Linked DNA regions of Homo sapiens. The protein of the gene in region 1 interacts with the protein of each later gene in a pairwise test. Each region holds a gene or a part of one and is shown on either strand. Other genes may lie near its edges. The genes, in order: MACROH2A1, SREK1IP1 and ZNF622.

Region 1 (3,828 bases):
CACTTTAACTTTTCTCTAAATAGCCTTCCGTGAGACTGGTTATCTTAAGAGTTTGGCACAACCTTTAAAAGAGAGAGGAGTATGTAGAAAAGTTTTTTTGTAAAGCAGGCAGGCAGTAACTTGCTGTTAAAATGTAGCAAGCTGCACAGTTCCTTCAGTGCATCTCGGGAAGCGCATCACCGAATGGGTTTGCAGAGGTGAAATTTCAATCCCAGACTAGCTTCCCCAAAACTGTTTCTTGCTTGTGGTAAATGACATTTGTGTTTGTGTTTTGTTTCTTCCTGCCACTGAAAACATAACAGGAGTAAGACACATCTGCTGGAACAAAATGCATGGTTTATGATTTATTTACTATCTCAGTTGGTCTGTCTCTTCTGTTTGCAGTCCCCTAGTTCACTGAGAGTGGACTGTAGGTTCTTTAATCATCTGGCTCACTTTTTGATATGGTGTTTTATGAATGGAGAGAGATATTTTTCCTGATTGGCTAGAATACTAGAACAGGTCTCTGATCCAAGCCAATCAGAGTGCAGCTTGTGAACCCCAGCTCTGTGAGCAATGGTTGTCTAGTATATCCACATGCCTCTGGGGACATGACAGCGGGTGACACCGTTAATCATTTGGTGTGATAGGAGTAAACGGAAGAGGGAAGAGAATGCTGTAAACAGGATTAGTGTCTTGTCCTTCAGAATTAAGTTTCTCAGGTTGGCCTTTGTGATTGGAGTTGATGGGAAGGTGACAAATGCATGTGGATATGCGGGCATTTATCCAGCTGCCAGAATGGATGGCGTGGTTCTTCCTCATCAGCAGTTATTTGAGCACTGATAGCTCAGACTCCTCTATCCTCAGGGGCTGGAGATAGGGCTCTTTGACTAGCAACTCCCCAGCAGTTCTAATCAATATTGCATGGGATCAATAGGCATGTATTCATTGCTTAGATAATAAAATACTTCATGATTGACTATTCCAGCGGTTTCATGAGTGCCCTGATTGTTTAAGGGGTTTCTGTGCTGTAGCTTAAACAGGAGTCAATCTCTTATAGATGTGAGGAAGGTTAAGTATTTTCCTGCAGTCTATGGTACTGAGCCAGAGGCAGGAGGAGAGGTCACTGGAACCATAGAACTGTCACAGAGTCATAAGGCCTCAGTGTGCCTTATGCCCAGCTATCAGGGCAATTGGAGTGTTCCTTTCCTGAGAATCCCCAAGGTAGCTCTACAAGCTCCCTGAATTTTGAGTGTCTGGGCTCCTATAGGGATTTTGCCAGGTGTATGTACATGAATGTCCAAGAGAAGGTCTCTGATTGGTGTCCCACTAGCCATAGCTCCCAGTCCTGTGGGCTTTGGAAATGCTGCCCTCTCCTTTCTCCCTATCCACTGTCAGTGCCAACTAATCAGCTACCTTGTAGCTGGCATGTGCATGTCTACCGGGTGCCAGGCAGGGTGGTGGGTGCTTGGAGATACAGTGGTGAGTAGAGCAAATTGGTTCGTTTCATCAAGACAGACAGGTAAATAGGCAATGATGATACCATGCACTGAGTGCTAAGAATGGGATAGCTGGTTTCAGAACTTATATGTAAATGGGATCTAGAGTGACTGGCAATCATGATGGAAGGAAGGGCTGGAAACTGCATTTGCAGAGTACTGTATATAAGACTAAGAAAAATAATTGAGTATATTAAAGAATAGGGGCAGCCTGAGGGAGATTGTGAGGCACTTTTAGCTGGGCCCTGGGTCTGCAGCTGCCACATCCATTGAGGGAACTGGGAGGGAGAAATTCATCCCGGTGGATCTCTGGTTGTTGCAAATAGAGAGATGTGTTGGAGGTCAACAGGGCCTGTGCACAAGGTTGGAGTCTGGACATGCAGCTGCCCCAAACTAGACTGTGACTGACAGAAGGCATGGCCATGGCAGGAATGCAGAAGAGGGAGCACATTGATGGATCATTGCCAGGGAAGGTATTGGGACCAGTAGGCAGGATTACTCCAGACAAAGGGCTAGAGAGATGTTCAGACTGAGCATGCTGGGTGTGCTGAAGGTGCCAGTGGGAATGAAGGTGGTTTGCAGTGCAGGGAGCAGCCTGTTAGGATGCCTGCTGGGAAGGGATAGGAGGGTGTGGCAGGGCCTCCATGGCACTTTGGTTCTTTGCCCCTACTGCCCCTCCTAGTAGTACACAGCTTGTTGTTCTCATGTCCACCTTATTCATGGGGTCTACATAGCCAGCCTTCTAATTAGTCCTGTGCTAAAAGAACTGACTGCGTTGCTCCAGTCGCATCTCGATTGCTGAGGGGCCTGTGGTCAGACTCTGTTGCTTCTCACTGTAGCCTGACTCATCTCTCCATCCAGCTCCTCTATAAAAGTTTGTCTTTGGGTAAGCTTTGAGGTTTTATAAACAAAGTTAATGTTTATTGTGATTTATAATTGGAAGAGTTGCAGAAATAAAGACCACAGAGATCCCTTCAAGATCAATCACAGAACCTTCATTTTCTAGGCCAATAACAGCCAAAAGGGCAGTCAAGCTAATGTGCAATGATGAACAGACACAGTTGCCTGAGGACCTATCATTGTTTTCAAAGCATGCAGAGCCATGAGTGAAGCCTCCTGGTTTACTGAAGGAAGGAAGAACACATCTTTGTCAAGTTTGACCAGATAGTATAGCTGTTCTCCTGTGACCAGCTTCACTGCCCTGCAGAGGTGATGAGTGCTTAGGAAGCTGCTTTGTCTATGATGTAGGGCTGTCTGTTTCTCAAACAAGGCTGGATGCAGAACATGGGTCAAACAGGGCCCAACAGGTTTTGGGTGGTAACTCATTCTGGGGTTAGGGTCAGCGTTCAGATTGGTTTATCATGTGACAGAGACTGGCTGTTTCCTCTTTTCTTCTGAGTAAATAGCCAGAGTACATTTCCCAACCTCTCTTGCAATTAGTTGTGGGCATGTGACTAAGTTCTAGTTGATGGATCATGGTCAGAAGTGATGTGCCCCATTTGCAGGCCTGGCCCCTTAAAACCCTCATAGGTTATTATCCATGGTCTTTTTCTTTCCATGGCAACCCTGGGAATCATGTATTGAAGATGTGAGAGTAACAAGATGGGAGGCATCTGGATCCATGAATCACTATGTGGACAAGAAACACCAGCCAATCATGGAAACCCATTTTGGATTTTTCGGGAGTGAGAAATAAGTTGTAGAGACTTATCTGTTACAGCAGCTAGCAATGTCTTCAGCGCAAATGTCCAAGATCTGTTCTGCAAGAAGATGGCCTTTTTTCATCTTATTCACATTATTGTTTTTGTTAACTACTGAGAACTTGCCCAGTGAGTGAGTATCAGGCCCTTACATGGATGCTTTGATTCACTTCTGCCACCAACTCTTTGAGGCCCTTACTAGCATCATCTCCACTTGAAAGATAAGAAAATAGGTTCAGAGGGGTTAAATCACTTGCTCAAAAATGCACAGCCAGTAAGCGGCAGAGCCATGGTTATAATCAGGTCAGTCTGGCTTTGGACTTCTAGTTTTTAATTATAATGCTTAATTGCCATTGGCCTCACAGTCACTCTCCCCCTTGTCATGGGTGCCTGACTGGAGCTACCCACACCTGCATAAACCTCTGAAGAGCAGGATGGACCTGGCACATTCATGGGTTTATCTGGAGACTGCACAACTATGAGTTGGTTTTCAAAAGGGTGTTTTGAAAACCACCACACATTGCTGGATGTCATAAGGCTTCATGGCTTAGTCAGAATTCTTTCATAGCTGTGGCTGCAGCTTGGGGAACTATAGTTAGAAGTGCAGGAAGAACATGGGGAGGGATAAAGTACAGAATCTCTGCAAGACA
Region 2 (3,828 bases), about 71 Mb from region 1:
TTTTACTCTTCTATGAAATGCAGAATTTCTAGTACCTGCCTCCTTTGTTTTTGTAATAATTAAAATACTTCTTGTATAAAGAGATTAGTTCAGCCTGTTAGTAAGTCTGCAGAGATGATGCTGAGTTGGTTGTGATTTTTAGAATAGACTCCTGGGTTGTTTTACAAATGTGCCATATTGGCATGTCTTACAGTGATACCTCAAACACAGAAATTTTTATTTAGGAAGATAGCTAAATCTTTATTAGAACTGATTTTTATTGTATTCAGTATAAATTTTATGAAGCTTGTTTCTATGAGTACTGTGGAAAATTTTATAAATGTGAGCATATATATTTATTTTGTCTGACATAATTTGTAGTTTTAAAGCAAGTTTCACACTGAACTTAACGTTTTCATAAATGACCAGTTTGGGATGTTTCTCTCTTTTACTTTAGTGGCAAACTCAAGAGTAAAAAGTGTCAAAAAAAGAATTGAGAATTTTATTCTGTACTTTTTAAAATTTAAGAGCCAGGGAGTTGCATCATGAAAGCCTTTGTATAATAATGGAAATTTTATATGGGTAAGCATTTTCAAACACATATTAGTAGATACGTTTTTTAAATTTCTATTTTCACATTGATCAGTGTTACTTTGCTTAATACTTAGGTAGCCCTTATGTCCACTAAAGTAAATGCTTATGTTGTAGAAGCATCGAACATCAACCAATGTCATGGCACAGCACCAAAGATTGCAAATACCTCACTATGGTGCGCTTAGAAATTTTCAAATTGATAACCTATAGATACGGCTGCAGGTGAATTCATGATAGTGAAATCAGCTAAGTATACTTAACCTCACAGGCTAGAAAGGTTTACTGATTCTTGTTTCACCTGGCACCCAATGTGGATACCCTCAGTAAGACTCAGGGAGCCTTATAACTCCTCTTAACATATGCTTACCCATGCTTAAATTCTAGGGAAGCTGTATCCACAGCCCTCTGCATTGCAGCCATGAGAGCTCTCACGCTTTCAACCCTTCCATAACCTAATTTAGTCATTTGGGCCTCTCAAAAGGAAATGCTTTTGTTTAAATAGGTCAGTCAGTTACTGGGAGAAAAAATACAGAGCCAGTAGGTTTTTAGGGATTTGTTTTGCCTTTGCTGCTAGTTTTTTGAAAATATTCTTCGATTATCAAGATTTTAAAAATCGGTTTTTAATATAAAGCTTTTTTAAAAACGAGGCTGGCACAAGTGCAGTGGTGTTTCTTTACTCCCACTGCTTGACTTGACTAGCCTTGAAAAAATAACAGTAAAATAAAATATTAAAAAATAATTAGAAAATGCTACAAAGGCAATGACCTTATTCCATTGAGTAAGATAGTTAAAAATGATAGTAATTGTAGTGAAATAGTTAATTACTTGTAAGTTTTATTACTGTTAATTGTAGAGATTATAAATTGGCTCATTAGGTTTCTGAATGGTGACACAATAATGACTGAGAAGAGCAAAAGTCAGTCCTCGTTAACTAATGTAGTATGCAAATTAAAATATTTTAATGATCAGTAATTTTCCCCCCAGAAATGATGTTGGCATTTCTAAGTAAATTTCCCATAATTTTAGCATAGTTTATGAAATTGAATAAAAATTTATTTTCACTGAAGTAATTTTCTTCTAATATGATATTATTATTGAGATTGGATGCAAATCTCATGAATATGTTTTAGAAGAAAATTAATGAAATTCCCTCCCAGGCAGTATGTACCAGAAGGAAAACTGAATTTAGCAGTAAAACAGTCCTGGTCATTCTAACTACCTGTATGATCTTGAACAAAGTCACTTAGTTTCCCTGGGCCTTGGTGTCTTTCGTCTATAAAATATTGTACCAGATTATCTCTGAAATCACTTCAAGGTTTAATATATATAATTATCAATATTTTAAAATTCAAGCAATATTCACTTTAGAAATTATTATAACATTCTATAATAGTAAAGGTTGAATTTATTAATATAATAAACACGTTCAACTTCTTCAAGCAGATAATTGATATTTGGTTCATATTCTTACAACCTAATGCATGTCATTTTCACCAAATGCAGGCAGAATTTATATTTAGGTTTGCATCTGGAACTAGATTATCTGGCACTTTATGGCCATTATTTTTGGGTTGATGGACCTTCTCACCACACAATTTCCCCCTTTTTTTTTTTTGCATATCATATGTTGGTTGATATTTCTCAGAGGTATCCCTATTTCTTCATACTTAATATACATCTCCATTTACATCTTTGACTCTCTGAGGTCAAAACAACAATAAATGAGAAGTAAAACAACTATATGTGTTTGTATTTACAACTGTATCTAAAATTATATAACCCTAGTTTACCTTCAGAGTAAACTAGGCTGAAGAGTTGTTAATAATGTTGATAAAAATGCCATTGAATCCTTTCTTCAACAAATATTTATTGAGTACCTAACGTGGCAAACGCTGTGCTAAGTACTGGGGATACAGAGATAAGTAAGACACATTTGCCTCCCTGAAGGACTTCACAGTGTAGTTGGTAGGAGAAACACCAGAGCATACACCGTTATATAATTAGTGCAGTAATTGACATGAACATGAGTTTATAGAAACTCGGGGTTACCTAAAGTAGTCTGGATAAATTAGAAGAGGCTACCTAGAGAAAGTAGTGACTGAATTGCAATTTGATTAAGGATAAGAATGAGGGTTATGGCAGTTCCTGACAGAGTGGGTACTGTGAACAAACACCAGAGGTAGAACAAGCTGTGTTATGTGTTTGTCAAGAATTACAAGCAATCTGGTGTTGCTGGTGTATCATAGGCGAGGCAGGAAGTGGTAAGAATTGAGACTACCATTTTAAGTTCTTAGGAACAGGAGGAAGGAGTCGTGTGTTCCGTGTTTGGGAGCTTGAACTGTAATGTGTAAGCAATGAGACACCATTAAAGAGTTTCAAGGGGGGCCGGGCACAGTGGCTCACGCCTGTAATCCCAGCACTTTGGGAGGCTGAGGCGGGCGGATCACCTGAGGTCAGGAGTTCAAGACCAGCCTGGCCAACTTGGCGAAACCCTGTCTCTACTAAAAATAGAAAAATTAGCCGGACGTGGTGACAGGCACCTGTATTCCCAGCTACTCTGGAGTCTGGGGCAGGAGAATCGCTCAAACCCAGGAGGTGGAAGTTGCAGTAAGCTGAGATCACACCACTGTACTCCAGCCTGGGCGACAGAGCGAGACTCTATCTCAAAAAAAAAAAAAGATTTTAAGGAAGGAAATGACTTTTATTAGGGTTTGGTTTTATCAATTTCATAATCCGATTAATCCCACCATTTTTAAAAGATGAAATTGCTTTCATTAGAAGGCTACATAAAATATAATTTGATTATTTTAGGCTCTATTATTAGACTCACATTTCTTTCTACAGTCTCATTATTATTTCCAAAAATTACACAGTAACCTAAATCATCTAAAAACACATAAAGCTACTGTATTCTTTATTAGATCCATCCCCAGAGTTATATGTACATGTACATACTTTGAGATGTGTTTTGTTCTTAATTGTATTTTAGGTTATTTTTGACTGACTTAAATTCTATCACTATTTTAATATTTGTTAGGTCCGAATAAACCATTTAGAATATTTTTCAGTGTACAAAATGTGCTGTAATTTAATAAGGCCCCTTGCTTTTAAAATTTGGCTTAACCTGTGAAGCACAACTGCTTCAGAGTTACAGAGAAACATACCAGTTGGTCCACTGGATGAGCCCTGTGGTTCTACCTCAGGTAACCTAGTGATAAGCTAGCTCAGCAGGGAGTGCTTCAAGGACTCCAGCTG
Region 3 (3,600 bases), about 120 Mb from region 1:
GAGTAATGGATTTCTGACTTTCTGACTTAGTACCAACTAAAGTGCTTGTTAGAAGAACATCAAATGTGTCATTGCGACTCAAGTAGGGTGAGCAGGGTAGAGAAGGGGGTGTGGCAGGACCTCAGAGGGAGGGGTAGAGCCTCGGAGAATAGAAAGTAAGGTGTTTGAATTTGATTGAGTCAAGGGAAGGCACTGGAAGGTTTTTTAAAGCGCCATCTTCTTTTGGTTTTCTCTTGGCAGCCTGGATTCTGAGCATGCAACATTCGACTCTAACAAGGCTGACTCTGGTTCAACCAGGCTGTGTGGATGAAATCTACGACCTCCCCAAGCATTTGAAGTTCATGTTTTCTTTTTCTTTTGAGATGGAATCTTGCTCTGTTGCCCAGGCTGGAGTGCAGTGGCGCGATCTCGGCTCACCACAACCTCCGCCTCCCGGGTTCAAGCGATTCTCCTGCCTCAACCTCCCAAGTAGCTGGGATTACAGGTCTGCGCCACTGCGCCGGGACTAATTTTTGTATTTTTTAGCAGAGACTGGGTTTCGCCATGTTGGCCAGGCTGGTCTTGAACCCCTGACCTCAGATGATCCGCCCGCCTCGGCCTCGCAAAGTGCTGGGATTACGGGCGTGAGCCACCGCGCCTGGCCTGAAGTTCTTTTCTACAGAACTTTGCTGTCCTATATACATGAGGGTACACAGCCAACTGGGCACCTGGCACGGGTCTAGTCCAAATTGAGATGGGCTGTTAACTCTAAAACACACACTGGATTTCCAAGACTTAGAACCAACGACAGAGCGTAAAAGATCTAATTAATTCTTTTAGACTGATTACATGCTGAAATGACAGGATGGGCTAAATTAAACACATTAAAAGCAGTTTCACCGATTTCTCTTTACTCTTTAAAAATGTGGCTGCTATTAGAATTACCTACGTGGCTTGGACTGTGTGTCTACAGGGAGCTCCTCTCGCGCACTCTGTGCACTCAAATTCCGCCGGTGTCCTCCGCCGGAAGGGCCGCCTCAGAAAGGCCGAGCCCCCGGCCTGGCTTCTCCGGTTTCCCGGGAAAGCGTTGCAACCACGGGCGAGGGCTCCGAGGTCGGCCCCGAGGGGTAAGGGCAGCCCTTGCCTTCGCGACATCCATTCACCCGGCTCCGCAGGTGCAGCGCGCGGTCCTCAGAGAAACCCCGACCCTCGCGTCGCTGACCCGACCATTCATTAATCGGGGGCTTCCCAGGGCCCAGGAGCAGCCTCGGGCGCCCCACTCCCCCATTCTCGCGTAGCCGTCCCCTTGACCGCGTCACACCGAGCGGCACAACCACCAGGGAAGGTAACTGGGAGGGCGCGACCTCCCTCAATCAACAGCCACCTCGGGCTGACTGAGCGGACCCAGGTCCCTTTCAGCCACAGCGTTCCCTCGGCTTCCTGGGCCTCACGGCGGCGGAGGCGTGGCCACAGCCTGAGAGGCGGGTTTCCTGTCCAGTTGTGAATAACTTCCGACGTGTGCCGGAAGTTTCCTCAGTGACAATCAGGAAGTCGGCGTGTCGAGTGGCTCTTCCTGGCTGCTGAGGCGGGTTAAGGTCTGAGGGTCTTGTGGGGCCACGGCGCTGATCACCAGGTGTTTGGCTTGGTCGGTTCTTATTTCTCGCCTGGCAATGGCGACGTACACCTGCATAACTTGCCGGGTGGCGTTCCGCGACGCGGACATGCAGCGGGCCCACTATAAGACGGACTGGCACCGCTACAACCTGCGGCGGAAGGTGGCCAGCATGGCCCCAGTGACCGCCGAGGGCTTCCAGGAGCGAGTGCGGGCGCAGCGGGCCGTCGCGGAGGAGGAGAGCAAGGGCTCGGCCACCTACTGCACCGTTTGCAGTAAGAAGTTTGCCTCTTTCAACGCCTACGAGAACCACCTCAAGTCCCGGCGTCACGTTGAGCTGGAGAAGAAGGCCGTGCAGGCAGTGAATCGGAAAGTGGAGATGATGAATGAAAAGAACTTGGAGAAAGGACTGGGCGTGGACAGTGTGGACAAGGATGCCATGAACGCGGCCATCCAGCAGGCCATCAAGGCCCAGCCGTCCATGTCTCCCAAGAAGGCGCCCCCAGCGCCTGCAAAGGAGGCCAGGAATGTCGTGGCCGTGGGTACTGGTGGCCGTGGGACCCACGACCGAGACCCGAGTGAGAAACCACCCCGGCTCCAGTGGTTTGAACAGCAGGCGAAGAAGTTGGCAAAGCAGCAGGAGGAGGACAGCGAGGAGGAGGAAGAGGACCTGGATGGAGACGGTGATGGCCCTGTCTGGGCGGGGAGGGTAAAGAGGAACTTGGCCCACCCTTAAGTTTCCAGATTTATACTCGAGATGGGTGTGTGTGTGTGTTTGAGAGCTTTTAAGTAAAAATGATGAGGGAAGGTGGTTTAGACGCTTTCTGAAGTGCCTTATCTGGCCAGCAGGTTTGGCTGTTTAGTTCACTCAATTCATTCTCCAAGGCCTAAAACCTTGTCTGGAAAAAGAAGTGCTTAATGCATATTTGGAGAATGAATTGATGCCTTCTGTGTTTTGGATGAAGAGGCTTTTAACATATGCACAGGAGGACATGCTATCGTCATACCAGCTGCCGTGTAATTTGCGATTCTAGTGGGTTTCCAGTTATGATGGTTTTGCACTTAATTTAGTTGAGTAAAACAGAATGAGGGGATCAAAACCAACTCAGCCAGAAATTTGGAGCTGGAGCCAGCACCCTCACCTCTTTGCCTTTATGAGCTATTTATTCCTTACTTCCCTCATCCCACATCCTATTAACAGTGCTGGTGTAGGTGTTCATGTCTTAGTCTGTCCACTCTGCTATAAGGAAGTACTAGAGACTGGGTGATTTATGAACAACATAAATGTATTTTCCCATAGTTCTGGAAATTGGGAAGTCCAAAATCAAGGTGCTGGCAGAGTCAGTGTCTGGTGAGGGCCTGTTCTATAGATGAAGTTTTCTCATGGTGTCATCATGTGGTGGAAGAAGCAGAAGGCAAAAAAGGGGCTAGCCAGTTCCCTCGCACTAATCCATTTATTCAGGATTAGTGCTTGCCTAACCTAATCACCCACTAAAGGCCCCACCTCTTAATGCCATTTCATTGATGATTAAGTTTCAACATTTGAATTTTGGGAGGGAAACATGCATTCAAACCATAGCCGTTCATAGAGCACCCTACCAGCACATACACACACCCCATAGTACTTTTGTGAAATAGTAGATAGAGGCATTGTTTTAGAAGTTTATAAAAATATCCAGGCAGGTAGGAGACTTCCTAACTATATTTTCAGCACTGGGCTAGGTGCTGTAAGGCATAGGAAAGAAACAAAGAAAAGATTCCTGTTTCCTGGAAAAGAAAGACTAAGGAGTTTCATGGCCATTCAGATGAGTCTGTGGTAAACAAATAGCTAAAATTGAGATCTTGAAAGAGGAGTTGTCCTTGGGAGTTGGGGTGTGGCTGTTTCTCCAAATATAGGACTGTATCACCTCGTGAATTTTTGTGATATCTTTGCTTGCTACTACTTTTCTTAAACTTTATATTTCAAAATTCTGGCTTGCAGATTGGGAAGATATTGATTCTGATGAAGA

What was found.
Region 2: the proteins of MACROH2A1 (region 1) and SREK1IP1 interact in binary tests that used the Homo sapiens proteins (3 or more experiments, as listed by UniProt).
Region 3: the proteins of MACROH2A1 (region 1) and ZNF622 interact in binary tests that used the Homo sapiens proteins (3 or more experiments, as listed by UniProt).

The regions. Positions count from the first base shown.
Region 1 is NC_000005.10:135,392,424-135,396,251, reverse strand, and holds part of MACROH2A1 (core histone macro-H2A.1), read left to right. Parts: intron 1-3,828. UniProt on the Homo sapiens protein: Variant histone H2A which replaces conventional H2A in a subset of nucleosomes where it represses transcription. Nucleosomes wrap and compact DNA into chromatin, limiting DNA accessibility to the cellular machineries which require DNA as a template.
Region 2 is NC_000005.10:64,719,936-64,723,763, reverse strand, and holds part of SREK1IP1 (protein SREK1IP1), read left to right. Parts: 3' UTR 1-3,828. UniProt on the Homo sapiens protein: Possible splicing regulator involved in the control of cellular survival.
Region 3 is NC_000005.10:16,463,715-16,467,314, reverse strand, and holds the start of ZNF622 (cytoplasmic 60S subunit biogenesis factor ZNF622), read left to right. Parts: upstream 1-1,514; 5' UTR 1,515-1,649; coding exon 1,650-2,274; intron 2,275-3,572; coding exon 3,573-3,600. UniProt on the Homo sapiens protein: Pre-60S-associated cytoplasmic factor involved in the cytoplasmic maturation of the 60S subunit.